3 separate regions of the Homo sapiens genome follow, and regions 2 and 3 are each linked to region 1. Evidence: fine-mapped expression QTL. A gene starts in region 1. Each other region holds a variant in brackets. All regions are shown on one strand. Distances are from middle to middle. Region 1 holds the start of MCFD2 (multiple coagulation factor deficiency 2, ER cargo receptor complex subunit). Region 2 overlaps STPG4 (sperm-tail PG-rich repeat containing 4). Region 3 overlaps TTC7A (tetratricopeptide repeat domain 7A).

Region 1 (9,438 bases):
CTCCAAGGCCTAGACAGGCTGTACTGGACAGGGCTTTGCACACTAGGCCAGGGCTTGACATCTCCTGCAGAGAAAGACAGGAGAGTCACTTACAATTCATGAATGGGAGGTGAGATCAGAGCTTGGTTTCAGAATGACTCATCTGGCAGCACAGTGGGGAAGGCATGAAGTGGCAAAAGCAAGACTAGAGGCAGGAGCATGGTAGCCAAGGGAGTGGTAAGGCGGGTCAGATCAAGGTCTGCGGCAGCGGACAAGGTTCTGTACCTCCTGGGTGGTAACAGTGGCAAGTAACTACAGTGAGCGGGCACTGGAAAGAAAAGTTACAGAGAAATCAGGATGCCATCAGGAACTCCCAGGGTTTGGCCACACTTGGAATTGTGGTCAATAAGATGACAGTCAGCTACAGAGCAAGCTCTTGGAGGGCAGGGAGAACTTTAACCCCACCAGTATTACCCGCCAAGGGTCAGGCAGGCCTTTAATAATTGTTGATTCAATGGAAAGTCTTGGTCTGTCCTAGGGCTGACAGACTGACCTCAAAAAGGAAGGTGAAGGACAGCCAGGTGACCTACATACAAAAACAAAAGACCTGACCGAACACTCACTTCCCAACAGGCAAAACAGATTCTGCTAGATAACAAGGCCAGGGATTTCTAACAGGTCAATTGTAGTCCACAGCCCCAAACCAGCAGTGGTAAAGACAAACCATAAGGCACTGGTCATCCCCTTTACATGCTACACACAGGGCTCAGCTCAGAAGCTGTAGCTGTCTTTGTGCCTGGGGCTGAGAGGTAGAGGTGTTATAGTCCCTCTTACCCATCCTAAAAGGCTCTCAGGGCAGAACCCTGAAAGTGTGAGTATGCCACCCTACAACACTTAGAAAAATTTCCCAAATCCGTTTTTCCCATTACCAGTATTGCTTCCCATGGCCCCCTCCTTAAAGGGGACAATAGTCACTGGGATGTCTAACTTCCAGGATAGGCCAGGCATGGTGGTTCATACCTGTAATCCCAGCACTTTGGGAGGCTGAGGCAGGAGGATCACTTGAGGCCAGGAGTTTGAGATCAGCCTAGACAACACAGTCAGACCCCCATCTCTACAAAAAATAAAAAATTAGCTGAGCGTAGCAGTGCACCCCTATAGTCCCAGCCACTCAGGAGGCTGAGATAGGAAGATTGCTTGAGCCCAGGAGTTCAAGGCTGAAGTACACTCCAGCCTGGGTAACAGAGTGAGACCCTGTCCTCCACCACCAAAAAAAGGAAGAAACTTCCAGGGTGCTAAAAAGCACCTAGAATCTAGTCTACTTCTAAACAGTGACATCAAAATGCAATCTGTCTCAGACCTTTTATTTTTTAATTTTTATTTTTTTGAGACAGAGTCTTGTTCTTTCGCCAGGCTGGAGTGCAGTGGCGCAATCTTGGCTCACTGCAACCTCCGCTTCCCAGGTTCAAGCAATTCTCCTGCCTCAGCCTCCCGAGTAGCTGGGATTACAGGTGCATGTCACCACGTCCAGCTAATTTTTGTGTTTTTAGTAGAGACAGGGTTTCACCATCTTGGCCAGGCTGATCTCGAACTCCAGACCTCAGGTGATCCACCCGCCTCGGCCTCCCAAAGTGCTGGGGTTACAGGCATGAGCCACCGTGCCCGGCCACCTCAGACCTTTTATATCTGTAGTTTAAAAAAAAAAAAAAGCAATATGTCATACTTAATAGGAAAGAATGCTCAATATATATTGAATGAAAAAGAACAGGCTGCAAAAAAGCAATAAAGAATAATACACTTTTGTAAAATAAAAATGTGTATTTCCTACACAAACTAATAACAAAGATTATCTTGAGACATGAGATTAGAATTGTGATTTTCAGCCGGCATGGTGGCTCGTGCCTGTAATCCCAGCACTTTGGGAGGCCGAGGCGGGCAGATCACGAGGTCAGGAGATCGAGACCACCCTGGCTAACACGGTGAAATCCCGTTTCTACTAAAAATACAAAAATAAAAATTAGCCAGGCGTGGTGGCGGGCACCTGTAGTCCCAGCTACTTGGGAGGCTGCGGCAGGAGAATGGCATGAACCCGGAGGTGGAGCCTGCAGTGAGCCGAGATCTGCTACCATTTTTTATGAATATGTATTCAATGTAATCTATCCCATAATTTTGTCCCAATACTATATGGATCGGATACAAAAGGAGTTTCCGGTTAATTCTTATCTCCACAAAATAATTCAGAAACAGTCAGAAACTACACTTCCAATTTTACCAAATAAAAGTGCCCAGACCTTGGCCAGGGACAGTGGCTCACATCTATGATCCCAACACTTCGGGAGGCCGAGGCAAGTGGATCACTTGAGGTCAGGAGTTTGAGACCAGCCTGGCCAATGTGGCAAAATGCGTCTCTACTAAAAATACAAAAAAAAATTTGCTGGGCATGGTGGCGTGCACCTGTAATCCCAGCTATTTGGGAGGCTGAGGCACAAGAATTGCTTGAACCCGGGAGGCAGAGATTGCAGTGAGCCAAGATCACACCACTGCACTCCAGCCTGGGCAAGAGAGTGAGACTGTCTCAAAAAAATTTTTTAAACGTGTCCAGACCCTGACAAGGCCACTGCCACTGTACCTGGTACCACAAAACAAGGTTTCAGGTTACTCCTAGCAGTGACTGCCTAGGCCATAGCAGAACAACTTGTTCTGACCACACATCTTAGAGTTCTGGGACAGGAAGGATCAGAGAAGGGAATCAAGCTCCTCCCAAGCCTTTCAGACTCATTTACATCAAATGTCTCTTTCTCCAGTGAGGTCTTTTCAATTCCAAGTCTGGTGTAGGTATTCGTCCTGCAGGCTCCCAAGTGCTTCCCTTCAGAAGGCTCCCGTCCACAGCTGATGACAGCTGCAAATTAATTCTTTTTTTTCTTTTGTTTTCTTGTGTGTGAATGAATTCTTGAAAAACTGCCTGATTACTTGTCAGTGCCCCTTGCTGGATGGGCTTTAAGAGGACTTGGACTGAATCCACATTCCCAGTATCAGGCACAGTGCCTGGAACAGAAGCTGCTGGTTCTTAGCCTGTGTGCCATGGTCCTTGGGGAGCTGGGGGGATTACCACCTTTGCAGATATGCTGCCAATTTTTAATGTCACTGTAACTGAAGATGAAACTTTTCTTTTGGAGATATCTATCATGGAACTCATGGCACCATTTCCTCCAACTATGTGATTGGATGCTTAGTATATCAATTTGGTGTGTGTGTGTTGGGGGTGGGGGAAATTCTATTTAGATAACACCAAAAAGCAACCAAGTGATTAATCATGTAGTAACTATGAGTCCAAAATATCCCTTCTTTAAGGGAGGTGGGATAAAGGCCAAGAATCACTGATTTTGAACTTGTCTCATTTTGGTTTGCTGTTGCAGGTTTCTAATCATTGGAATGCAACAAAAGCCAAATCGATAAACATAAAGAAAAAAAATTCCTCCAAGTGGTACACTGAAAACAGGGAATCGGGCTGGGCATGGTGGCTTATGCCTGTAATCTCAATACTTTGAGAGGCTGAGGCAAGTGAATCACTTGAGCCCAGGAGTTCAAGACCAGCCTGGACAACATGGTGAGACTCCCTCTCTAATTAGAAAAAGAGAGAGAGAGAGAGGAAGAAAGGAAAGAAGGCAGGCGAGGGAGGGAAAGATAGAAAACAGGGAATCTAACTGCCACCTAACAAATTAAACTGCTGACAGTCAAGAGAAAGCATAAGCAACTCCCTCTACCCAAATAACAGGTTGCATCATCCATGCTCTAACTACTTAGCTCAAGGCCATGGGCTAACAGCCTGAAGATAAGCCCCAGCTCACTGGCCTTCTTTAGGAAATTATAAAGGCCAGGCTGAAGAAAAACCCAACGGAGGAGAAATTTCTGCAAAGGGACTTCAGGGCACAACCCATACCTTGAGACAGCCCTCACAAGGCGCAGCCTCAGTCCTGGGAGGGCAGTGCTGGACCATCAGGAGCAGTGCGCCTCCCAGTGCCTTGGCTGTCACAGTGCTCCCCTCCTGCTCTGCCAGCCTCTTCCTGTACCACAGCCTCCGCTCCTACTGGTTCCATCTGTCCATCTCCAACTTCCTTCCAGGACAGGTTCAAATGTCACCTCAGGATTCTTCCAGCCAAGACCAATTGCTCTCTCATCCGACCTCAGTCTGTAGCCTCTCACACTCATTTGACCTGAACATACGATCACAGGTTGTTCTCCTTTTCCATTTTTCTCTTTTCCTCCCTCTCTGAGAGTCAGGACCCTCTCTCCTCTGGCTCTCATTTACCTTACTGATCTCTGCTGAGCTGACCTGGCTCATCGCTGAATCAGGGAAGTGAGTCTTGGCACCTAGGTGTATTGTTCCCTATCCCACAGCGGATCTAGCCTAAGCTGGAACTTCCTTTGGAGGCTTCCAGTGGTTTGACCTGGCCCAACCCTTTCTTCCTGGTGTGTCATCAGTCCTATCAGCACTAAGTTTGGGGCCAGCCTTCCTGCCAGCAGCTAGTAGCAGCTTCTCCCTCAAGGGGCCCTTGGTTAAGAATTCAAACCCAAAGCAGCCAAACTCACCAACATCCAGACATCCTGTACCCACAGCCAATGCCAAAGAAAAACTGACCAGTACTTTGTCACTTACCCCTGTCATGGTCCTGGAATGAAGGCAAGAAAATAACCAACTTCCTAAGCTAAAGAAACCTCTACACGGACTGAGGGTTGAGAATTGGTTCTGAAAAAGCAGGCATTTAATATTAATAACTTGATCTATTTGTTCATCTAGGGAGCCCAAGGAGCACCCATGCTGCATTTATACATTTAATGACCGTACTAACAGCACAAGGTACTGAAGATAGTACTATGACCTCGACAAACTCCTCTCACACAGATTACAACCTGGTAGAAAAGAGAGACCGGCAGGCAGACACCCATGGGGTACCACGAAATCCCCAACTGACACCTGAAATAACACATAAAGGATAAGAAGGATTATTTCAACCAAAGGACAGTGCCTCAGACATAGCGAACATACTGAAGGAACATGTAAGCCCAGAAGGAACTTGTTCTGATCTAAGAACCAAAAAAGATTCAGTATGGTTGAAGACACAGTACAGTCGAGACAAATGAATCTAAAGTTAAAGGAAGACAGGTCATGAAGGGCTTTGCAAGCCCCGTTCAAGAGCTTGGAAGAGCAATGAGAATCCACCAAAGGGTGATAAGGGAATGGGGGGACGCTTCTGGTCACATGATCAGATTTCTGTTTTAAGACCATGGCTGTAGCCTCTCTGTATAGAACAAACTACAGAGGATGAAGAAGAGATGCAGGGATCATCAGGAAGACACCGAGGTAGTCCAGAGAAGAAAAGGTGGCCTGAACTAGGTAGGGCAGGGGGATGGGACTGGAGAATGAACGTATCCAAGACAACTTTGCAAGGGATTCGATGTGGGTGGGTAAAGGAGTGAAGCAAGTGAGAATGATGCCCAATTCTGGCTTGGGCACCCGGGTGGATGGCCATGCCCAGAGAGGGAATACAACAGGAGATCAGCTTCCCCCGCCGGGCCCGACAGGACCTGTGGTCTCCCCGAGAGAGGGAACAAGGAGCAGAGGGAGAGTAAGGCTTCCGGCCCGCTGCTTTTGGGCCGGGCCAGGAGCAGTGTCCACCCGACACAGCTGGTCCCACAGGCCGATCCTCGGGCCCCTAGGGACCAGGGAAGGGGGCGGAGATCTGCCCAGTCGGCCCCGTCTGGCTCCAGAGCCCCCGGTGGGGCACAGGCTTCCGCCCCGGGAGACAGGCCGTGCTCCTAGCCGGTTAAGCGTCCCGAGACGGCCTGGGGGCCCAGCCCGCGCCCCCAGACTACTCCTGCCTCTCATCTTGAGCCCAAGCCTCCAGCCCACAGGAGAGGCGCCGGGATCCCGCCCGCTGCGGAGAGTGCGCTAGTTCACTCACCCTTACGGTCTCCGAAGCAGACGCGAAGCCCTCCAACGTGAGCCTCACCAGCCCCCGTCCCCAAAACGCTCTTCCTCGGCTTCGCCCCGCCCCCCCCCCCCCCCCGACCTGCCCTGCGCACGCGCGCTCCCTGCCGCCCGCCCATTGGCGCCGCCGGGCCCCTCCCGCTGGCGGCGGCGGGCTGTGAGGACGGCTCGCGTGAGTCCACGTGTAATCGGCCCGGGCCCAGCACTGGCGGGACTGACGCAGTTCTTCTACCTGCTTTCCCAAGGGCGACACTCGGCTCCACTCCAGTTGGGCCGCTGGACGCCCTAGGGGCCCGGCAGTTGCTAGGCAACGCCGGAAGCCCTCAGGAACGTAGTTCCACGGGCGACGTAGGATGGCGGATCCGGATGGGGCGGACCCCAAAGCTGGCTCCCAACTCCGCTCACCCCCTCCTATACAGGGCTCTTGGTTCAGGTCTCTTGGTTCGTCCTGCTGCAAGTTGGGAAGAAAGATAATAGGAATGCTAATTCCTTCTTGATGAAACGACCACAACACGCTGGAGCCGGCCTTGGACCCTACGTTTCAAGATTGGCCTGCTTCCAGCGTCTGCCAGCTCCACTGCACAAGCTGCGGCAGCCGCTGTCCCCGTTCGCTTCCACGGGAGTCCCAGCAAGACTATGCGACCCAGTTCAAATACCATCTTCCATGTACCGTTCGTGAAATCAGCAGCTTTTGACATTCAAGAGAGGACAGATTACTTAAAAACAGACTCATGAACAAATAGGGAAACGAATACATCATCCCTGTATCGAATTCATCCCTGTATAATCCTGCCCTTACACCTGTGCTCCTATACAAGATTAACATTCAGTAAGTATCCATTGACCTGATGGATAAATGAGTGTAGGACGGTCGTTTTGTTTTTTTGTTTTGTTTTGTTTTGTTTTGAGACGGAGTCTCGCTCTGTCCCAGGCTGGAGTGCAGTGGTGGGATCTCGGCTCACTGCAACCTCCGCCTCCCAGGTTCAAGCTCTTCTCCTACCTCAGCCTCCCGAGTAGCTGGGATTACAGGCGCGTGCCACCTTGCCCGGCTAATTTTTGTATTTTTAGTAGAGACGGGGTTTCACCGTGTTGGCCAGGCTGGTCTCTAACTGCTGACCTCTTGATCCTCCCGCCTCAGCCTCCCAAAGTGCTGGGATTACAGGCGTGAGCCACCACTCCCGGCAGGACGGTCGTTTTTTTTAAAGCCCTTCTCCCATTTCTGTCCATAAAGGTACATAATCGTTTTTCAAATGAGCCTGGGTCCGGACAGGAAAGACAAAGAAAGTGGCTAAGTAGTTAGATGCCTTGAAAGTTGCCTAACGCCACTGCCATTGACGGTCTCATTCCTTTTCCCACCTTCATCTGAGATTGAAATCTGCCACCCCATCCCAGAGAAAAATCCCATAATCCCTAATTTTTTTTTCTTTTTTTAAAGAAAAGAGTCTCCATGGTGCCCAGCTCGTCTCGAACTCCTGGGTTCAAGCAATCCTCCCACCACCTCCGCCTCCCAAAGTGCTGGGATTACAGGGGTGAGCCACCGCGCCGGGACAAAGAATCCCTAAGTTTTGAGGAAACCCTATTAATTCAAGACCCATTCTTCTTTCCTTACTCTGAACTTTGGATTAGTTTGATCTAGTTCCTCCTTCTACCCTGCATCTGCCATTCATCCATCTCTTCATCCATTCATCCACCCCTCCCTTTGTTCATTTATTCATTCAATAACATTTCTTGAATATCTTCTATGTACTAGGCGCTCTACTAGGAGCTACTAGAGATACAAATAAGACAAATGAAGTGTCAAGAAGCTGGTGTCTGGTAGATGGATAAAGTGTCCTCATTCTAGCCAGTGCTTTCATTTTTTTCCTATGGATGTTATCCTGTGTTATGTCTCTCTTGAATCTACAGTCACTCCCTCTCTACCAGATAATTCCCATCAACATATAAACTTGCTGTATTTTCTCCCCCACCATACCACTGAAACTGCAATCTCCATGCAAATCTAGTGGTCTCTTTGATCTCTTGTTTTTATTTTACTTGCCCTCTCAACACTGTTTTATCAAAGCCAACCACTCTCACTTAGAAACACTTTCTTCTCTTGTTTTCTGACACCACACACTCTGGGTCCTTCTGCTACCTCACTCATTATCCTTTCTTGGGCTTCTTAATTGGCTTCTCAATCTATAATTATCAAAGTGTCCAGGGTTCTGTTCTGAGTCACCTTCTCTATCCACCCTCCCTATGTGAGTTTACCTAGTCCTGTGCTTTAGATACCATTTATAAATAGATGACTCCAAAATATGTCTCTCTGACAATGACCTCTCTGTGTAATTCCTGGCTCCTGTAAATAACTGCCTACTTGATGTCTCCATATGAATGTCAGACTGGCATCTCAAACTTAATGTGTCCCCCCAAAATCTTGATTTTCACCCCCAAACCTGCACCTCTCTCAGTCTTGTGCATTTTAGTAAATGTCACTGGTACTCATTCTGTTGTTCAAGCTAAAATTCTACGAGCTGTTTTTGATTTATCTCATCCCTTTACCTTTAAATCCTTCAGCAAAGCCTGTTGATGCTATCAAAATGTATCCTGAGTCTTTGACTTCTTTCCACCTCCACTAAACCATCTAGTCCAGTAGTAGATGATGCTGCTGGACTACTTGAGAGAGAGCTTCCTAACTGACCGTCCTGCTTCCATTCTTGCCCTACTGTAGTCCATAAGTGAGAAGCCACCTTTGATTAAGCCATTTTATAGGTGGGTGTTCTGTAACTTGTAGCTGAACCCATTCCTAACAGGCAAATAATTTGGTACCAGAAGCAGGATGCTAAAAACAAGACACTAAAATATGGAATTGGCTAACTGGAGGTTAAGGTAGCCAGTGTTAAAAGACTGTATGTCAAACTGGAAAGTTGGTGACCCTTATAAGCCGTAGTGAAACTGTCACTTGCTGGACCTTGGATATAGGCCACATGCCAACCAATGCTATATTTTTGGAGAAATCTCACGAGCAATATGGAACATTAGTGAGTGTTGCCTTTTTTAGTAGCTTTCAGCAGACTCCTTCAAGAGAAGGGCAACTCTACGTTGGAAATAACTGATTTGAAAGCAGAGATTAAAGAAAGTAACGACTAGGTAAGAGAGGATCTCTTTACCTGCAACCAGGAGTCTCATAACTTGGAACCTTGCTGAAATACCCCATTTACTTTGTGTACTCAGGTTGAAACTAGTACAAGTAGAGACAGAGAGGTGGCTTTATCAGGAGATAGGACGGCCATCCCAAGATACCAGAATGGCCTCTAGGTGGCATCTCTTTCCTCAGCTGTTTTGAATTGTCTCAAGACAATGTTTTACCTATGTAGGGGATTCCAGAGTGGATGAGAATAGGGGTGAAAATAAGATTTCAATTTACACCTTTTAGTATTGCTTTGATGTTGTAAACTACATATTACTTATTTGGAAAAATAAATAGAAAA
Region 2 (10,787 bases), 210 kb after region 1:
TTTCCTTTGAAATTTCTTCCATTGCTATTATCTCAGAAAGTTTGCTTATCCTTAGATATATACTAATATATTTTCTCCTGGTTTAATGGCTTCAAAAGTATCAAATTTTTTAATCAATATGAAATTTATTTTAATGTGTGCTATGAAGTGAGAATCTAACACCTTTTCCAAGTTATTTAATAATAAGTTACCTAACATATCTTTTCCTTTCCCTACTGACTTGTCATACCATCTTTATCAAATATAAAAATCTTGTATTAATAAAAAAATCTTGTATTAATATATTCTAGGATCTGTTTCTGAGCTCTGTTCAGTTTTCTCAATTTTTTTTTTTGCAGATGTTTGCTATGCGGTCTTTTTTGATCCTGAGTTTGTAACTACAAATAAATTATAGTGCATCAAACTATCCCAAAACAATTTTATATTTTATTTCTGTTTTTTGTTTGTTTGTCTGTTTGTTTTGTTTTTGTTTTTGTTTTTGAGTCTGAGTCTCACTCTATTGCCCAGGCTGGAGAGCAGTGGTGTGATCTTGGCTCACTGCAACCTCCGCCTCCCGGATTCAAGCCATTCTCCTGCCTCAGCCTCCTGAGTAGCTGGGATTACAGGCGCATGCCACCACGCCCAGCTAATTTTTGTATTTTTAGTAGAGACGGGGTTTCACCATGTTGGCCAGGTTGGTCTCAAACTCCTGACCTCAAATGATGCGCCTGCCTCAGCCTTCCAAAGTGCTGGGATTACAGGCGTGAGCCACTGTGCCCAGCCAATTTTATATTTTCTTATTCTTTCAGATGATTTATATAATTATTTATTTTTTTGACATCCTACTGACTAGCTATTTATCTAAAAGAGTTCATTTTTTATCATAACTCATGGTCATGCATTTGGAAATATTTAGAAATAGAAAAGCATTTTCATATCTTTAAAAGGAAAGAAACAGAGAGGTGCTTCCTTTTTGTTAATACCATGATCTATTGAATATCTCTAGCGATTTAATTAATTAATTCACCAAATACTATGTGCCAGTCACTTGCCTAGGTGCTAGGTATACAGGAAAGAAATCCCTGCCTTCATAAGCTTACGTTCTAGTGAGGGGGAAAGATAAAAACAGAGTAGATACATTTTAAAAGGTATTGTGTCTGACAGTTATGAATGCTATGAAGTAAAAAATAAACCAAGGAAGGGGACAGCAAATTTGAATAGGTGACTTGGGAAGACCTTCCTGAGAAAGTGGTATTTCAGTCAAGACCTAAAGAAAGTAAAGGAGCCGAACATTTTCTTCTACACTTTGCCACAAATTGGTTACTCATTTCTCGTATATCTTCAGATATACTTTATGTATATCTTAAATCAATTGCATTAGTCATTCAGAGCTTATCTACTATGATGAGCAAAATGTTAATCTTACTATAGCAAAAGGATTCATAGTATATTTTATTTTGAAAAATGTTTATGGCCACATAGTAGGTATATATATTTATGGAGTACATGAGATATTTTGATACAAGCATACAATGTGTAATAGTAACAGCAGGATAAATGGGGTATCCATCACCTCAAGCATTTATCATTTCTTTATGTTACAAACATGCCAATTATACTCTTATTTTTATTTTATTTATTTATTTATTTATTTTTTTGAGATGGAGTCTCACTCTGTTGCCCATTCTGGTGTGCAGTGGCGCGATCTCAGCTCACTGCAACCTCTGCCTCCCAGGTTCTAGCAATTCTCCTGCCTCAGCCTCCTGAGTAGCTGGGATTACAGGCGCATGCCACCACAGCTGGCTGATTTTTGTATTTTCAGTAGAGGTGGGGCTTCACCATGTTGGCCAGGCTGGTAGGCTGGTCTTGAACTCCTGACCTCAAATGATCCGCCTGCCTCCCAAAGTGCTGGGATTACAGGTGTGAGCCACCGTGCCCAGCCAATTTTTAAATGTACAATAAATTATTGTTGACTATAATCACCTGTTGTGCTATCAAATACTAGATCTTATCATTCTATCTAACTATATCTTTGTATCCATTAACCATCTCCACTTCCCCTTTCTCCATCCTCCACTACCCTTCTTAGTCTCTGGTATCCATCCTTCTACTCTCTATCTGCATGAGTTTGATTGTTTTATTAATAATTTTTAGCTCCTACAAATACATGAGAACATGCAAAGTTTGCCTTTCCGTGCATGGCTTATTTCACTTAACATAATGACCTCCAGTTCTGTTCATGTTATTGCAAATAGGAGGACCTCATTATTTCTTATGGCTGTGTAGTACTTTGTTGTGTATATGTACCACATTTTCTTTATCCATTCATCTGCTAATGTACACTAAGGTTGCTTCCAAATCTTGGTTATTGTGAACAGTGTGCTGCAACAAACACCAGATACCTCTTCAATATACTGATTTCTTTTCTTTTGGGTATATACCCAGCAGTGAGATTGCTGGATCATATGGTAGCTCTATGTTTACTTTCTTGAGGAACCTTTGTACTGTTCTTCGTGGTGGCTGTACTAATTTACATTCTCACCAACAGTGTACAAGGGTTCCCTTTTCTCCACATCCTCGCCAGCATTCACTATTGCCTGTATTTTGGATATAAGTCATTTAAACTGGGATGCAATGATATCTCATTGTAGTTTTGATTTGCATTTCTCTGATGATTAACGATGTTGAGCACCGTTTTATACACCTGTTGGCCATTTGTATGTCTTCTTTTGAGAAATGTCTATTCAGATCTTTTGCCTATTTTTTAAACAAATTATTAGATTTTTTTCCTATTGAGGTTGGGCATGGTGGCTCATGCCTGTAATTCCAGCACTTTGGGAGGCCAAGGTGGGCAGATCGCTTGAGCTCAGGAGTTCAAGACCAGCCTGGGCAACATGGCAAGAGCCCATTTCTACAAAAAAATACAAAAATTTGCTGGATGTGGTGGCATGCACCTGTAATCCCAGCTACTTGAGGGGCTGAGGGGAAGGATTGCTTACACTAGGGAGGTCGAGGCTGCAGTGAGCTGTGTTTGCATCACTGCACTTCAGCCTGGGTGAAAAAGCAAGACGCTGTCTCAAAAAAAAAGACCTTTTTCCTATTGAGTTGTTTGAGCTCTTTATATATTCTGGTTATTAATCCTTTGTCAGACGGATAGTTTGCAAATATTGTCCCCCATTATGTGGGTCGTCTCTTCACTTTGTTGATTGTTTCCTTTGTTGTGCAGAAACTTTTTAACTTGATGTGATCCCATTTACACATTTTTGCTTTGGTTGCCTGTGCTTGTGGGGTGTCACTCAAGAAATCTTTGCCCAGACCAATGTCCTGGAGTTTCCTCAATGTTTTGTTTTGATAATTTCATAGTTTGAGGTCTTAGATTTAATTTTTTTTTTTTTAACTAGAGACAGGGTCTCCCTATATTGCCCAGGCTGGTCTCGAATTCCTGGGCTCAAGGGATCCTCCTGCCTTGGCCTCCCAAAGTGCTAGGATTACAGACGTGAGCCACCATACCCAGCCAGATTTAAGTCTTTAATCCATTTTGATTTGATTTTTGTAAAATGGCAAGAGATAGGGTTCTAGTTTCATTCATCTTCATATGGATATCCAGTTTTCCTTGCACCATTTATTGAAGAGACTGTCCTTTCCCCAATGTGTATTCTTGGCACCTGTGTCAAAAATGAGTTCACTGTAGATATATGGATTTATTTCTGGGTTATCTATTCTGTTCCATTGGTCTCTATGTCTGTTTTTATGCTACTACCATACTGTTTTTGCTACAATAGCTCTGTAGTATAATTTGAAGTCAGGTAATATGATTCTTTCAGTTTTGTTCATTTTGCTCAGGATGACTTTGGCTATTCTGGGTCTTTTGTGGTTCCACGTTAAGTTTTAGGGTTCTTTCTTCTTTCTTTCCTTCCTCTTCTTTCTCTTCTTTCTCCTCTTCCTCCTCTTCCTCTTCTTCTTTCTTCTTTCTTCTTTCTCTCCTTCTCCTTCTTCTTCTTCAGACAGGGTCTTGTTCTGTTGCCCAGGCTGGACTGCAGTGGCACACACATGGCTCACTGCAGCCTTGACCTCCTGGGCTCGAGTGATCCTCCCACCTTAGCCTCGCTGAGTAACTGGGACCACAGGTGCATGCCATCATGCCCAGGTAATTTTTAAATTTTTTGTAGAGATGGAGTCTCTCTATGTTGCCTAGGCTGGTCTTGAACTGCTGGACTCAAGCAATCCTCCTGCCTCAGCCTCCCAAAGTGCTGAGATTATAGGCATGAGCCACTGCACCTGGCCTCAGATGATTTCTTGTTGCTCATTAATGTCCTTTCCTTTCAGAATTTGAAGAACTCCTTTTAGCGTTTCTTGTAGGACAGGTCTGGTGTTGAAATGCCTTAGCTTTGGTTGTCTGGGAAAGTATTTATCCTTCACATTTTAAGGATTTTTTACTGAATATACTATTCCAGGATAAGTTTTTTTCTTTCG[G/A]CACTTTAAATATGTCATGCCACTCACTCCTGGTCTATAAGGTTTCCACTGAGAAGTCTGCTGTCAGATGTATTGGTGCTCCATTGTATGTTATTTACTTCTTTCCTCTTGTGCTTTAGGATCCTTTCTTTGTGCTTGATTTTTGGGAGTTTGATTATTAATGTCTTGAGGTGGTCTTATTTGGGTTAAATATGCTTAGTGTTCTATAACCTTCTTGTACTTCAATATTTCTATTTTTCTCTAGGTTTGGAACGGTCCCTGTTATTATCCCTTTGAATAAACTTTCTACTTCAATCTCTCTCTCTATCTCTTTAAGGCCAATAACTCTTAGATTTGCCGTTTTGAGGCTATTTTATAGATTTTGTAAGCATGCTTCATTCTTTTTTCTTTTGTCTCCTTTGACTGTATTTTCAAATAGCTTGTCTTCAAGCTAATTCTTTTTTTTTTTTTTTTTTTTTTTTTTTTTTTTTTGAGACAGAGTCTTACTCTGTTGCCCAGGCTGGAGCGCAGCAGCACAATCTTGGCTCACTGCAAGCTCCGCCTCCCAGGTTCAAGCGATTCTCATGCCTCAGCCTCTCAAGTAGCAGGGATTACAGGTGTGCACCACCACACTCAGATGCTTTTTGTATTTTTAGTAGAGACAAGCTTTTGCCATGTTGGCCAGACTGGTCTTGAAGTCTTGGCCTCAAGCCGTCTGCCTGCCTCAGCCTCCCAAAGTGCTGGGATTACAGGCATGAGCCACTGCACCCCATCCAAGCTCACAAATTCTTTCTTCTGTTTGATCAGTTCTGCTATTGGGAGACTCTGATGTATTCTTCAGCATGTCAATTGAATTTTTCAGCTCCAGAGTATCTGCTTGATTTTTTAAAATTATTTTGATTTGTTTGCTAAATTTATCTGATAGAATTCTGAATTCATTCTCTGTGTCATCTTAAATTTTGTTGCACTTTGTCAAAACAGCTATTTTGAGGTGTCTGTCTGAAAGGTCACATATCTGTGTCACTCTGGGATTGATCACTCGTGCTTTATTTAATTCGATTGGTGAGGTTGTGTTTTACTAGATGGTCTTGATACCTGTATATGTTTGCCGATGTCTGGGCATTGTAGAGTTAGGTGTTTATTGTAGTCTTTGCAGCTGGTCTTGTTTGTACCTGTCCTTCTTGGGAAGGCTCTCCAAGTATTCAAAGGGAATTAAGTGCTGTAATCTGTCTTTGGTCACCGTAGCTGTGTCTGCATTAGAGGGCACCCCAAGCCTAGTAATTGCTGTGATTCTGGTAGACTTGTAGAGGTAATGCCTTGGTAGTCTTGGATAAGATCTGAGCGAGTTCCCTGGATTACCAGGCAGAGACTCTGGTTCTCTTCCCTTCCCTTCCCCCAAACAAACGAAGTCTCTCTTTGTGCTGAGATGCCTAAAGCTGAGGGACGGGTGACACAAGCACCTCTATGGCCAATATCCCTGGGACTGCACTGGGTCAGAGCCAGCATGGTACTGGGTCTCACCCAAGGGCTGCAGTAACTACCGCCTAGCTACTGCCCATGTTCACTCAAGGCCCAAAGGCTCTTCCCTTCAAGGCAGCATGCTGCCCCCTGGGCCAAGTGCAGATCAGAAATACCATCTGGGAGCCAGGGCCTGGAGTCAGGAAACTTAGGAATTTATTGGGTACTCTATACTACTGCAGCTAAGCTGGCACCCAAGCCAGAAGACAAAGTTTTTCCACTCGTCCCTCCCCTCTCCTCAAGCAGAAAGAATCTCTCTATGCCACTCAGGCCTGTAGCAAGTACTGCCTGGATACCACTAATGTTCACTCAAGGCTCTTCAGTCAGCTTGTGAGGAAGGCTGCCAGGCCTGGGTCTCTCCCTTCAGGGCAGTGGGCTCCCCTCTGGCCCAGTGGGAGTCCAGAAATGACATCCAGGAGCCAATGCCTGGAATTGGGAACCCCAGGAGCCTGCTTGGTGCTCCACTTCACTGTGGCCGAACTGGTACCCAAGCTGCAAGACAAAATCCCCTTTACTCCTCCCTCTCCTTTCCTCAAGCAGGAGTCTCTCTCTGTGACCACTGTAGCTGGGAAAGTGCTGGATCACACCTGAAGCAGCACAGCACTGGCTAAGGCCTGCAGTGAGTGTTGTCTGGCCACTGCTGGTGTTTATTCGAAGCCCAAGGGCTCTTTAGTCAGTAGGTGATGAATCTTGCCAGAACTGGGTCCTTCTCTTTAAGGCAGTGGATTCTCTTCCAGCCAGAGATGTGTCTAGAAATGTTGTCTGGGAGCTAGGGCCTGGTATGGGGGCCTCAGGACTCTGCCTGAGGTGCCCTATTCTGCTGTGGCTGAGCTGGTATCCAGATTCAAGACAAGTCCTCTTTACTCTCCCCTCTCCTCCTCTCAAGCAAAAGGAAGGCCTCTCTCTTGAAGCTGCAAGCTGTGCTGCCTGGGGCTGGGGGATGGCTGCTACAAGCACTCCTTTGGCTGCCCCAGCTGGTGTCTCACTAGGTCTTGTGTACCCTAAGTCCACTGCCTCTGAGCCCAGCAGAGCACCTGAACTTGCCCAGGAACTGCAGTCCTTGTGGCCGAGACTGCCTTTCAAGCTTATTTAGGACCTCAGAGCACTTCAGCCCACAGTGGTAGGGAGAGCTGGAACTCAGTATCGAACGGCTGGGATGGGCAATTCCTGGCTGGCTAGTGCTGGTCTAAATGCTCCCTCCATGGGCACTAGCTGAATTCTGTCCTGTGTTGCTTTCCCTGTTACAGGCAGCACGGTGTTCCCGTGCAAAGTCCCCCCGTCACGGCATTCCCTCTTCCCCAAGGGCAGATTCTCTCTTCATGCCACGTGGCTGCTGCCAGGGGATGGGGGAGGGTAGTGTCAGTAATTCAAGACTGTCTTTTCTACCCTACCCTCTTCAGTGCCTCTTTCCTTGATACAATGTTAAAACCTGGTATTGCGATCCCACACTTGCTTTTTGGTTCTTACAGAGGTGTTTTCTTGTGTGGATAATTGTGTGGATAATGGTGTTCCTGCTAGGGGGAACGATCACTGGAGGGTTCTATGTGGCCACCTTGCTCCACTCCAGAAAGCACAGCGTATTTTAAACATCAAATTCATCATGAGTTAACTGTCTACATTATACTTACGGGAATAAAATAGGTTGTTGGGAATCTTTGAACTGTTGAGCGAAATACACAGCTCCTATATTTCAAAATAAAAAAGAAAAGTGATTTTCTAAATCTATTTTTTAAAGATCTTTGTTAACTTATTCCCTACCTTTCATTAAATATTTTAAAATGTTAATTTGCATATGAGGTGCATAAATGAGGTTTAAAAGCCAGGAGTATTGGCGTGTAGGTATGTAAACAGAAAGGCAGCTTATTTAATAAGTATATAATTACCTGGAAGCATATTTGGGAACTGGTGCAGGAAGCACGTTGTATTGCCCCGGAGAAAGCTGAAGTGACTGCACAGAATGGACAAGGACACCAATAGATTAATAGAGGTTGTAAACTCACTTCGTTATCTGTCATTCGTAATCTTTTATTTTATGACCATACAACATTGGATAATTCCTTCTTTACTTTAATAGTGGAAAAGGAAAATGTACATTTCCAAAGGTGGAGCTTCAAAACATTTAACATAGATTCGGTCTTCATGGTGAATTTTATAGACAGCATACCTGAGATGCTGCATAGGAAAATGTCAAATTGATCACAGTTTTTCTTTTTATTTTTTTGAGATGGAGTCTCGCTCTGTCGCCCAGGCTGGAGTGCAGTGGCGTGATTTCCGCTCGCTGCAGCCTCCGCCTCCCCAGTTCAAGCAATTCTCTGCCTCACCCTCCCGAGTAGCTGGGATTAGAGGTGCACACCACCACGCCCAGCTAATTTTTGTATTTTTAGTAGAGACAGGGTTTCACCATGTTGGCCAGGCTGGTCTTGAACTCCTGGCCTCAAGTGATCCACCTGCCTCAGCCTCCCAAAGTACTGGGATTACAGGCATGAACTACCGTGCCCAGCCACATTTTTTTTTCTTTTTTTGAGATAGGTTCTCTGTTATCCAGGCTGGAGAATGATATGGCATGAACATAATTCACTGCAGCTTCAAACTCTTGGGCTCAAGTGCTCCTCCCACCTCCACATCCCAAGTAGCTGAGACTTCAGGTGTGTGCCACTGCACCCAGCTACTTTTTTATTTTTTGTAGAGACAGGATCTCACTATGTTGCCCGGGCTGGTCTTGAACTCCTGGGCTCAAGCAATCCTCCTGCCTCAGCCTCCCAAAGTGCTGGGATTACAGGTGTGAGCCACTGTACCTGACCTGATCACATCTTATTTTTATTTATTTATTTAGGGACAAAGTCTCACTCTGTTGCCCACGGTGGAGTGCAGTGGCGTGATCACAGCTCACTGAAGCCTCGACATCCCAGGCTCAAGTGATCCTCCCACCTCAGTCTCCCAAATAGCTGGGACCACAGATGCGCACCACCATACCTGGCTAATTTTCTTGGTCTTAATAGAGACAAACTCTCACTATGTTGCCCAAGCTGGTCTCAAACACCTGAGCTCAAGCAATCCACCCAGTTTGGCCTCCCAAAGTGCTGGGATTACAGATGTGAGTCACTATGTCCAGCCGTGATCACACTTTAAATATTCTAGATTCAACAAATCAATTCAGCCATTTAGTGAGCCTGCTCTGGGGTAAAGCGCAGCACTAGTACTAGGGAATACAGTGGTTAAGAGAGCTACGGTCCCTGACCAGCAGGAGTGAGAGGCACCTACAGAAACAATCCTAACATAAACCACTGTCATCAGTGCTAAAAGACAGATTGAAGATATGGGGGTAGGAAGAGATTAAATCCAACTGGGTGACCTCAAGATGACAAAGATGATGAGATTTGAGGGAGGCTTTTAAGAAAGGCAGGACTTCCTCAAGGAGCTCAAGCAAGGGTCTTCCAAGAAAGAGAGGCCTCACATCTAACACTATTTCCATCAGGAAATTGTTGCAAACAACCCGGGTGGCTCCATTGCCCCTGGGTCTAGGGACATTAGCCCACAGTTATGATATAAGAATGTCAGGAACTGGTTAAAATAGACAGGAGAGGCTTAATGCCTGTAATCCCAACACTTCGGGAAGCCGAGGCATGTGGATTGCTTGAGGTCAGAAGTTCAAGACCAGCCTGACCAACATGGCAAAACCCTGTCTCTACTAAACATACAATGATTAGCCAGGCGTGGTGGTGGGCACCTGTAATCCCAGCTACTTGGGAAGCTGAGGCACGAGAATCACTTGAACCTGGGAGGCGGGGGTTGCAGTGAGCCAAGATCGTGCCACTGGACTCCAGCCTGGGAAACAGAGCGAGACTCACTCTGAAAAAAAAAAAAAAATAGGAAGATATGTGAAGGAAGGTAGGGAAAGAAGGAAGGAGAATGAGAAGCCAGGAGGAGAAGATCATCCAGACATCCAGAGCTGGCAGGGAGGAGGGGAAGAGTTATATTATAAAATCCTAGGACCTGAAGTGAATAATCCCCTCCACTCCCTATTATTTTTATGTCAGATTTTAAGAAACAATACCGCTTTTGTTAAAAAGGCATCTACCTCCCAGCACTCGCTGGCACATGGAAGTTCACTACTATATTTCACCCTGCAGCTGTCTTTCCCATATTAGTACACAACTTTGATTGCAGAAGCAGCTTTTTGTGGATAGAGTGATGATAACAGTCAATACAAATTTAATGGTGAAATATATGCATTTTCCTGATGCACCTGTGCTGCTTGAGTGCTCACTTGACATCATAAACACCAAGGAAACAAAGGTATTCTTGTGTCATTCTTGTGTCTTATAGAAGCACAGAAACACAATTTGAACTGGGCATTCCTGGGGGCCAGCAATGTCCTATTTCCTGATTCTGATGACAATTACGTGGATGTTTGCTTTCTGTTTTTAAAATGTGCATATTTGCTTTATGCTTCTTTCTCTCTCTCTCTCGCACATACACAGATATAAACAGGAGACAAAAAAAGAAAACTGAAAAGGGGAAAAAACCTCTTAAAGCAGTCATTTATTTATCTATACTGAGCAATCCATGTAAGATTTCCATAATGAAGTGCTCATGGAAAAACTATTAGCATTACTCTGGAAAGGAATATTGGTTACCTGTAACATCTATATTTGTCCTACTATACTTGGCATTTACCATTCTTTGCTACTTAACGTAATTGAAAGGGGGCTTTTTTTTCATAAAGTGTTGAATAGTCAGCTGCTTTATGTAGGAGACTGTTTTCCTGTTCATTGCTAAACTTGGTTCCATTTTCCTTGGGTCTAATGGTATATATATGTGCATATATATATTTCTAA
Region 3 (8,000 bases), 38 kb after region 1:
TGGTGCCGTATCTGGTGGCACGGTGGCCCAAGGGCACGGAGTCCTGCCAGTGCACAGAGGAAAGGGGGCAACAAGGCGGGGACCAGCTGGGGGACGGGGCCAGCATCCTGAGGGGTGTGTTTCCCTCTTTAGGCTCTGACTTCAAACCCCACCCCTGGCTTTACAGAGGCAAAGCAGGTTAGAAGCAGGGAGCAACTTTCCCCAAGGCCCACAGCTCTGGAATGTGGCTCTGACTGACTGGATCTATGGGGATGTTCAAAAATAATTTTGATGTACGTTGCCAAATTACCCTAGAGGTTCTACCAACTTATAGTCTGCCAGCAATGAATGATAGTTTGAACCAGGTACTTTTTTGACCATTTCCTTAAAATGTTAATTTTAAAAGTCATGAGGTACATAGCAAAGGATCCCATAACAGGTGCCTTCAGAACGAAACCCCCCTGCGATGGTGTTCTTGGGATTCTGGGCTTTAGAACCGTTCTCTGTGGGGAATCTCCCTTACGGTGAGAGATTCTTCTTCAGAGGCATGAAGTTTTTTGTGTTTTTCTAAAGACGAGGTCTCCCTATGTTGCCCAGGCTGGTCTTGAACTCCTGGGCTTGAGCAATTCTTCCACCTCAGCCTCCCAAGAAGCTGGGACTACAGGCTTGCACTACTGTGCCCAGCTAAGGCATGCAGTTTTGGACTAGTGGCTATGAGATGTTAGCAGACTGTGGTATCCTGAGAGTGAGGAGGCAATGGCAGCCCTGTAGATCTGAGAACACTGTACTGGTAGCAAAAAGAGCACTTTGAAAAAGATGGCACCAAGCAGGCATTCCTAGGGATGTTTTTGGATTGGCACTTAACTCTCGATCCTGATGGCTTCGCTGTGGGGTAGTTGAGAGGATCCAATTCACTCAACAGGTATTTACTCAGTGCTTATATTGAATGGTGGGCCTGCTCCTCACCCCAGTTGCTGGGAGGGGCAATGAGCACAGCCACCCAAGAACCATGGTGAAACCATCTTGACCTCAGACCCTGCACACTGAACACCCGGCTCCCATGCTCGAGCCACCTCTGCTGTAGGTAGCAGGAATCTGGTGGTCACAAGACGAGTTTTCAGTGTGGTAAAGGGAGGCAGCAAATAAACCAAGCAGTATATTATCTTTATTTTTATTTTTTGAGACAGAATCTCACTTTGTTGCCCAGGCTGGAGTGCAGTGGTGTGATCTCGGCTCACTGCAACCTCCGTCTCCCGAATTCAGGCAGTTCTGCCTCAGCTTCCCGAGTAGCTGGGATTACAGGTGCCCATCATCATGCCTGGCTAATTTTTGCATTTTTAGTGGAGACAGAGTTTTGCCATGTTGGCCAGGCTGGTCTCAAACTCCTGACCTCAAGTGATCTGCCTGCCTTGGGCTCCCAAAGTGCTGGGATTACAGGTGTGAGCCACTGCGCTCACTAAACCAAGCAGTATAAAACCACCTACCAGGTGGTGAGGGATGCAAATGAGCTACCCTCATTTGCGGGTATACCCTATATGTGAGAGAACTCCAGAAAATGCAGGTATTCAACATGTTCGAGGATTTGCCTTGGCAACAAGTAGATCTGCTTCCCACCTAACTCTACTGTGGCTGCTAGGTTATCCTGAGTCATGTCAAATTACCTTAAAAACTGGATGGTATGGTGGCTGATGCCTGTAATCCCAGCACTTTGGGAGGCTGAGTCAGGAGGGTCACTTGAGCCTGGGAGTGCCATGATCATGCCAGTGCACTCCAGCTAGGGTGGCAGAGTGAGACTCTGTTTAAAACAAACAAACAAACAAAAACACTTAAAAATGGGGAAAACCAATTATGGTTACATAGAAATTAGGAGCATGTAAAAGTACATTATTAAACCACTTCATGTATTTTTTCTCTTCAATCATTTGGGGAGAATTCTTCTTGGTTTAAGAACTTATTATCCACAGCACAGCATATGTATGACTTTGTCCCTTATTTTAAATTCTGAAATTCTGGGAATTTGTCCCCGAGTCCTGGGAACTCTGTCTTCCCAACCATTAAACTACAGCAGAAAATAAATCCAAGGGGCAATTTGTATTGTGACCATAGTAGAATGCCTGTGTCTTTTCTTTAAAGGCTGTTGAAATTTATGAAAAATGTGCCTTTATTTTCTCAGACCTGAGCCATTCATGTACTGGGTATGGGTGGTTGGGTGGGTCCAGGAGTGTGCAACTCCCTCCATTATCCGCCTTGTTCGGGGTTTGCTGCTCTGACCCCTACTTTGCTTTTCAGATGACTTTGGGAAATTGCTGCTGGCTGAGGCCCTCCTGGAGCAGTGTTTGAAGGAGAACCATGCCAAAATAAAAGACTCCATGCCTTTGCTGGAGAAGAATGAGCCGAAGATGAGCGAAGCCAAAAATTATCTAAGCAGTATCCTTAACCATGGGAGGCTCTCGGTAAGTCGTCAGCCTTCAAGCCTGAGACCTCCTCTCCTCGTCTGTCTTGCCTCGCATCTGTCCAGTCCTCCCTGAGTCATTTGGTCACCTGAGCAACAAGTCTCTCTTACAAGCTGCCCTTGCACTTACAGTAGCCACTGGCTGCACATGGCCCCTTGAGCACTTGGAGTATGGCTAGTCCACATTGAGATGTGCTGTAAGTATAAAGCATACACAAGGTTTCAAAGACTTAGTACAAAACAAAGAATAGAAAAGAGCAGTAACTTTTTATGTTGATTACATGTTCAGATGGTATATTTTGGATATATTGGGTTAAATAAAACATGTTATTAAAATTAATTTCACCTTTTACCTTTTTCAGTGTGACTAAAAAAAATCTTAGTAGAAATTTTTAAATTACACATGTGGTTCACATTTGTGGCTTACATCATATTTTTTTGGACAGTGCTTGGTTGACTTAATATGTGCCTGGCCCTTTGGGCTCCTTGGGTCAGGGGGCTCTCAGGAAAATAAAACCTCAGTGAACCTGTGACCTAGTTAGAAACAGGCAAACATGCAGAGTTGGCTAGGGACAGAAGAGCTCCATAACAGGGCAAGCCCATTTAAGTCCACGTGTATTTATCAAGCACCTACTGAGTACAAGACACTGAGGGAGGTAGAGGACCCACCTCTCCCTCCCAGAAGGAGTATGGTCACAACTTTCTCTGGACTTTGCTGCTCAAAATGTGGTCCACCCACCAGCAGTGTAGGCATCATTGGGGAGCTGGTTAGAAATGCAATTAAGAGAAAAAAAAAAAGAAATGCAATTAAGAATTAGAATCTGTGTTTTAACAAGCTCTCCTGGGTGATTCATATGTGCATCCAAGTTTGAGGCTGTGGCTGTGTTAGATTACAATGTATCCTGAACTATAATAGTGGCATGGGTATGTCATTAGAAACTCAAAAGAGGAGGGGGAGGGGGTAAAAAAAAACTCAAAGAGGAAGTGATCCCTCCCTCCCTCCCTTCCTTCCTTGCTTCCTTCCCCTCTGTCTCTCTCTTTCTTTCTGTCTTTCTGTCTGTCTTTATTTTCTTCAGGGTCTCGCTGTGTTACTCAGGCTGGTCTCCAACTCCTGGGCTCAAGCGATCCTCCTACTTCAGCCTCCCGAAGCGTTGGGATTACAGGAGTGAGGCACTGCGCCCAGCTGATTTTTAAAGAGCTATTCCAAAGTAATATATTCACTTCCTTAAACCTTTTATTCCAACGTACTGTGTGCAAGGCATTGTGTTGTGCACTCTGAAGGCAATCAAGACGAATCCAGCATGGACCCTGCCCTCAAGGAGGTTGCAGGTCTCTTGGGAAGATAAGTCCTATCAGCAAGTAAATAGCCTTCCTCCAAGGTAGACCGTGATAGGAGTGCTATCCACGAGGAAGCAAGTCTGAGGGGGATGCTCTTTGGGGATAAGCAGAGAGCAGACTCTGAGTAATGGCAGTACTAGAATTGGATCCTTCTGGGGCTGGATCTAGACAAGGTTGTAAAGGTACTTTGGGGCTAGTAAGGGCAGACTGGAACACCAGGCCAGGATGTGCAGGGCTTATTTTGTAAGGGAGGGAAAGGCCAGGGGAGAGGGGAGTGTGTACTAGAAGTTTAAGGTTACTGCTTTTAGGCTCCTTGACAGGTATTGTAGCACTGGGAGGTTTGTATTGGGTTAAAATAGCTGCCTGACCCTGAGCATGCTTGACCCCACAGACCTTCCAGTTTCTCATCTGCTGGTCAAAAGGGTTGGACCAGATTGGTGGGGTTCAAGCTTTTCCCACCAAGACCGCTTTTCGTTTTAAAAATATTAAATTAATAATTAAATGTTAAATTAAATATTTAAAAATTGTTTTTAAAATAAACATGATTCAGCCTTATTGTAAAAATTCCAGTCAACAAATAAGTAATTTGAGTGATAAATAAAAGTCCCAGCTGGCCTATGGCTCACGCCTGTAGTCTTAGCACTTTGGGAGGCTAAGGTGGGAGGATTGCTTGAGCCAGAAGTTTGAGATCAGACTGGGCAACATGGTGAGACCCCATCTCTACAGAAAATTTTTTTAATTAGCTAGGCGTGGTGGCTTGCACCTGTGGTCCCAGCTACCCAAGAAGCTGCGGCTGGAGGGTCACTTGAGCCTAGGAGGTTGGGGCTGCAGTGAGTTGTGTTCATGCCACTGCACTCCAGCCTGGGTGACAGAGCAAGATCCTGTCTCACACACACAAAAAAAGTTCTTGTTTTCCAACCTCACCCTCATGCCCACACCCATCCTCAGAGTTGAGCACTGGTCAGTATTTGATGTGCATCTCCTATGCCTTTCTTTGTGCATTTACAAACATATATACACACAGAT[A/T]TTTCTTTTCATAGAGTTGTAAGATATATATTTTTCACCAAGAAGTTTTATTTAGAGCTTTCTCCATGCCAGTATTGTCTCATTCTTTGTATTGGCTGAATAGTAACCACATGTATTGTGACAACGGTTTTATTAAATACAAATTGTACCATATTTTGTTAAACAAAGACATATATAGGCACCAATAATGTGCAGAAATTTACTGTTATCCAGGCCAGAGCCAAAAACTTAATGATGATCTGTAAAATAATATATTAAATGTCGTTTGTGGGATTCTTTTTTGAGACAGGGTCTCACTCTGTCACCCAGGCTGGAGTGCAGTGGCGTGAACATGGCTCACTGCAGACTGGACCTCCTGGGCTCAAGTGATCATCCTGCTTCAGCCTCCTGAGTAGCTGGGACTATAGGCATGCACCACCACACCCAGCTAATTTTTAAATTTTTTTGTAGAGACAAAGTCTTGTCATATTGCTCAGGCTGGTCTTAAACTCCTGGGATCAAGCAGTCCTGTCACCTGTGCCTCCCAAAGTGCTAGGATTACAGGCGTGAGCCACCATGCCCGGCCATCATTTGTAGTATTTTCTATCTCACCCGCAAAGATCAGGTCACAGTTGGCGTGACCTTTCTTGGCAGCTGATGCAGTCTCAGGTGGATTCCTGTGCATCCAAGTAGCTCTGCTGGATGAGAAGGAGAGCTGGGAGAGGTGGGTCCTGAGGCCCCTCCTTGGGAAAGCTTGAAACCCTTTCCTCTTGGTTATCTCTCTAAGACCCCGTCCAGCTCAGTTGTGTGGAGATCAGTGAAAACAAGCCACTTGTCCTAAACTCTGTTCTGCTACTAGGTTGAGGCTTTGCACCATCGCATGCAGGCCTCCAAGGAACCTTCTGCAACGGTATTTACTATTAGCCCCATTTCTTTTTCTTTCTTTCTTTCTTTTTTTTTTTTTTCAATTTTTTGTAGAGACACAGTTCTTACTGTGTTTCTCAGGCTGGTCTCAGATTCTGGGTTTCAAGCGATCCTCTTGCCTTGGTCTCCCAAAGTGCTGGGATTACAGGTGTGAGCCACTGTGCCCTGCCAAGCTCCATCTCTTGAGACCCAAGAAAGGTGATCACAACCCAGGCCTTTAGTGTCTACAGCCCATGCTCTAATGCTGTCTCTCATTTCTTGGTACTGCCTCCCAGAGTACTGGGGTGGAAATAAAATAATGACTGGGAAAGTTGGATTCATGTGAAAGATGGTGATCACACCCCCACTTTTATAGTTCCCACGTTAGTCTGTGAAGTATTTCCTCATCCGTTCTTTCCTCATACCTGGATATCTCCATGAAGTCCTTTTTCCCCTTTTATTGACAGGGACAGTGAGGCACAAAAGGAGTAGGTGATGCGCTGATCCACACAGTAGAGGGGATTGTTCCTCTGGTAAAGCGACCTCCCCCGTGGCACCCTCCCACTGGGCAAGGGGTTCCGTTCCCTGACTGTTGTACTGATAGACCAAGAATATTTCACATTCAAATGCATGGGCCCCACAGAGTGCAGTGGACTCTTAATGTTGCCAAGTAAGGACATTAAGAAGCAAAAAATAGCAGCAAAATGATACCATCTTCTGCTCTTACTGTGCTATAACAGAAAAACAGTTTAGCATTGAAAGGGCAAGGTAGATATCCTTTCAGAACTAAGAGCCTTTTTTTTTTTTTTTTTTTTGAGACAACGGAGTCTCGCTCTGTCACCCAGGCTGGAGTACAGTGGCACGATCTTGGCTCACTGCAACCTCCGCCTCCCGGGTTCAAGCGATTCTTCTGCCTCAGCCTCCCAAGTAGCTAGGATTACAGGCGCCCACCACCACGCCCGGATAATTTTTGTATTTTTAGTAGAGACGGGTTTTACCATGTTGTCCAGGCTGGTCTCAAATTCCTGATCTTAGGTGATCTGCCTGCCTCGACCTCCCAAAGTGCTGGGATTACAGGCGTGAGCCACCGTACCCGGCCGAGCATTTTTTTAAATAGTGTAAATGTGGCTTTATAAAACATGCCCTGCATTGTCTAATTTTTCCCCAGCTTGGTGGAAGCTCTGTTGTAAACTGCCACTGGTCCTCCAGGAACCGCCACTAGCCACACCCCATCAGCATGCCTGAAATGTCCTTCTCTGCCTCACTGCCCTTGTCTCCATGTGCAGGATAATGATAAATACGCATACCCTGTATTTATCTTGCTCTTTTCCAAAGAAAAGTTCAAAGCTCTTTTCTGGACTTTGCCCTATTAATGCCTTCAGCATCGCTGTGATAGGCAGTGAGGAGTAGGTGTTATTATCTCTCCCTCACCCACGAGGAAGACGCAGCCCGAGCAGGGAGGAAATGAGCCCGTGGCTTGAGACCAGTGCAGGGAACGCAGAGTCACTGCCCAGCTTGGAAGGACTGTGGGCCACATACCTCTGGGATGTGTCATCTGTGGCCCTGGCCCAGGGAGTGGATGGCCTATCTGGGAAGACTAGCAAATCCCCTCAAAAGATTCAGCTTTGGAGAGTTAATTAATAGAGAGAGCAGGTCAGGCGTGCAGAGGCTGAATGGGCCCATTGGTAGAGGCATTGGAGGAGTTCAGCTGAAGGGAGCTCCCTGGTAGTCAAGGAGGCTTTCAGGAGAAGGTGGGCCTGAGCAAGGCCCCAAAGGATAGAAGAGGACCTGGTTAGGCCAGGGGGAAGGGGACCTGAGGAAGCACAGGCAAAAGAGGAATGTGGATTTACAAAGGCCAGAAGGACCAGTTGGGAAGGTGAATTTGGCTTCCCCAGAGCCTGTCTGTGCCACGCTTCATTTCTCTTGGCTTCTGAGAGGGCAGTAGATGGTAAGGAGTGCTGGAGGCTTGCCCTGGGGTCACAGGGACCCCAGACTCTTACCTCCCTACAGGGAGACAGGGGTAGCACCTTCCTGCCAGTGACAAATGCCAGGTGTGGGATGAGAGCTGCATCTTCGGGGAGTTTTATGGACAGATTGGTGCCTGTGTGGCGGGAGCAGTGCCCAGGGCCTGGCCCATAGGCATTGTGAGCCAGCTGAGGACAGGATCAGAGGCAGGGGGCCAGAGCAAATGGCCTGCAGAGGCGGGAGGTTACAAGGAGAACTGGGGCCATGTCCAAGGTCAGAACTCACGTGCCAGGGTGGCACAGCCCAGGGCCAGCACAGCCTCCCTCAGGCAACAGCACAGGATCCCAAGCCACAGTAG

What was found.
Region 2: its variant is fine-mapped to the expression of MCFD2 in whole blood (TOPMed, PIP above 0.99).
Region 3: its variant is fine-mapped to the expression of MCFD2 in whole blood (INTERVAL, PIP above 0.99).

What each region holds. Positions count from the first base shown.
Region 1 is chr2:46,909,781-46,919,218 of GRCh38, forward strand. MCFD2 (multiple coagulation factor deficiency 2, ER cargo receptor complex subunit) reads right to left here and starts at 6,026. Exons shown (of 4, transcript NM_139279.6): 1 at 5,943-6,026. It also overlaps a transcript of TTC7A not described here. RefSeq lists a silencer at 6,013-6,092 and an enhancer at 6,096-7,070.
Region 2 is chr2:47,122,364-47,133,150 of GRCh38, forward strand. It overlaps STPG4 (sperm-tail PG-rich repeat containing 4), which reads right to left. Exons shown (of 7, transcript NM_001163561.2): 4 at 7,833-7,897; 5 at 7,578-7,632. Among named protein-coding and RNA genes, the nearest start is that of STPG4, 28 kb to the right of the region's middle. The variant G/A (reference allele first, on the strand shown) is at 4,453.
Region 3 is chr2:46,948,095-46,956,094 of GRCh38, forward strand. It overlaps TTC7A (tetratricopeptide repeat domain 7A), which reads left to right. Exons shown (of 20, transcript NM_020458.4): 2 at 2,269-2,432. Among named protein-coding and RNA genes, the nearest start is that of TTC7A, 11 kb to the left of the region's middle. RefSeq lists a silencer at 7,036-7,330. The variant A/T (reference allele first, on the strand shown) is at 4,796.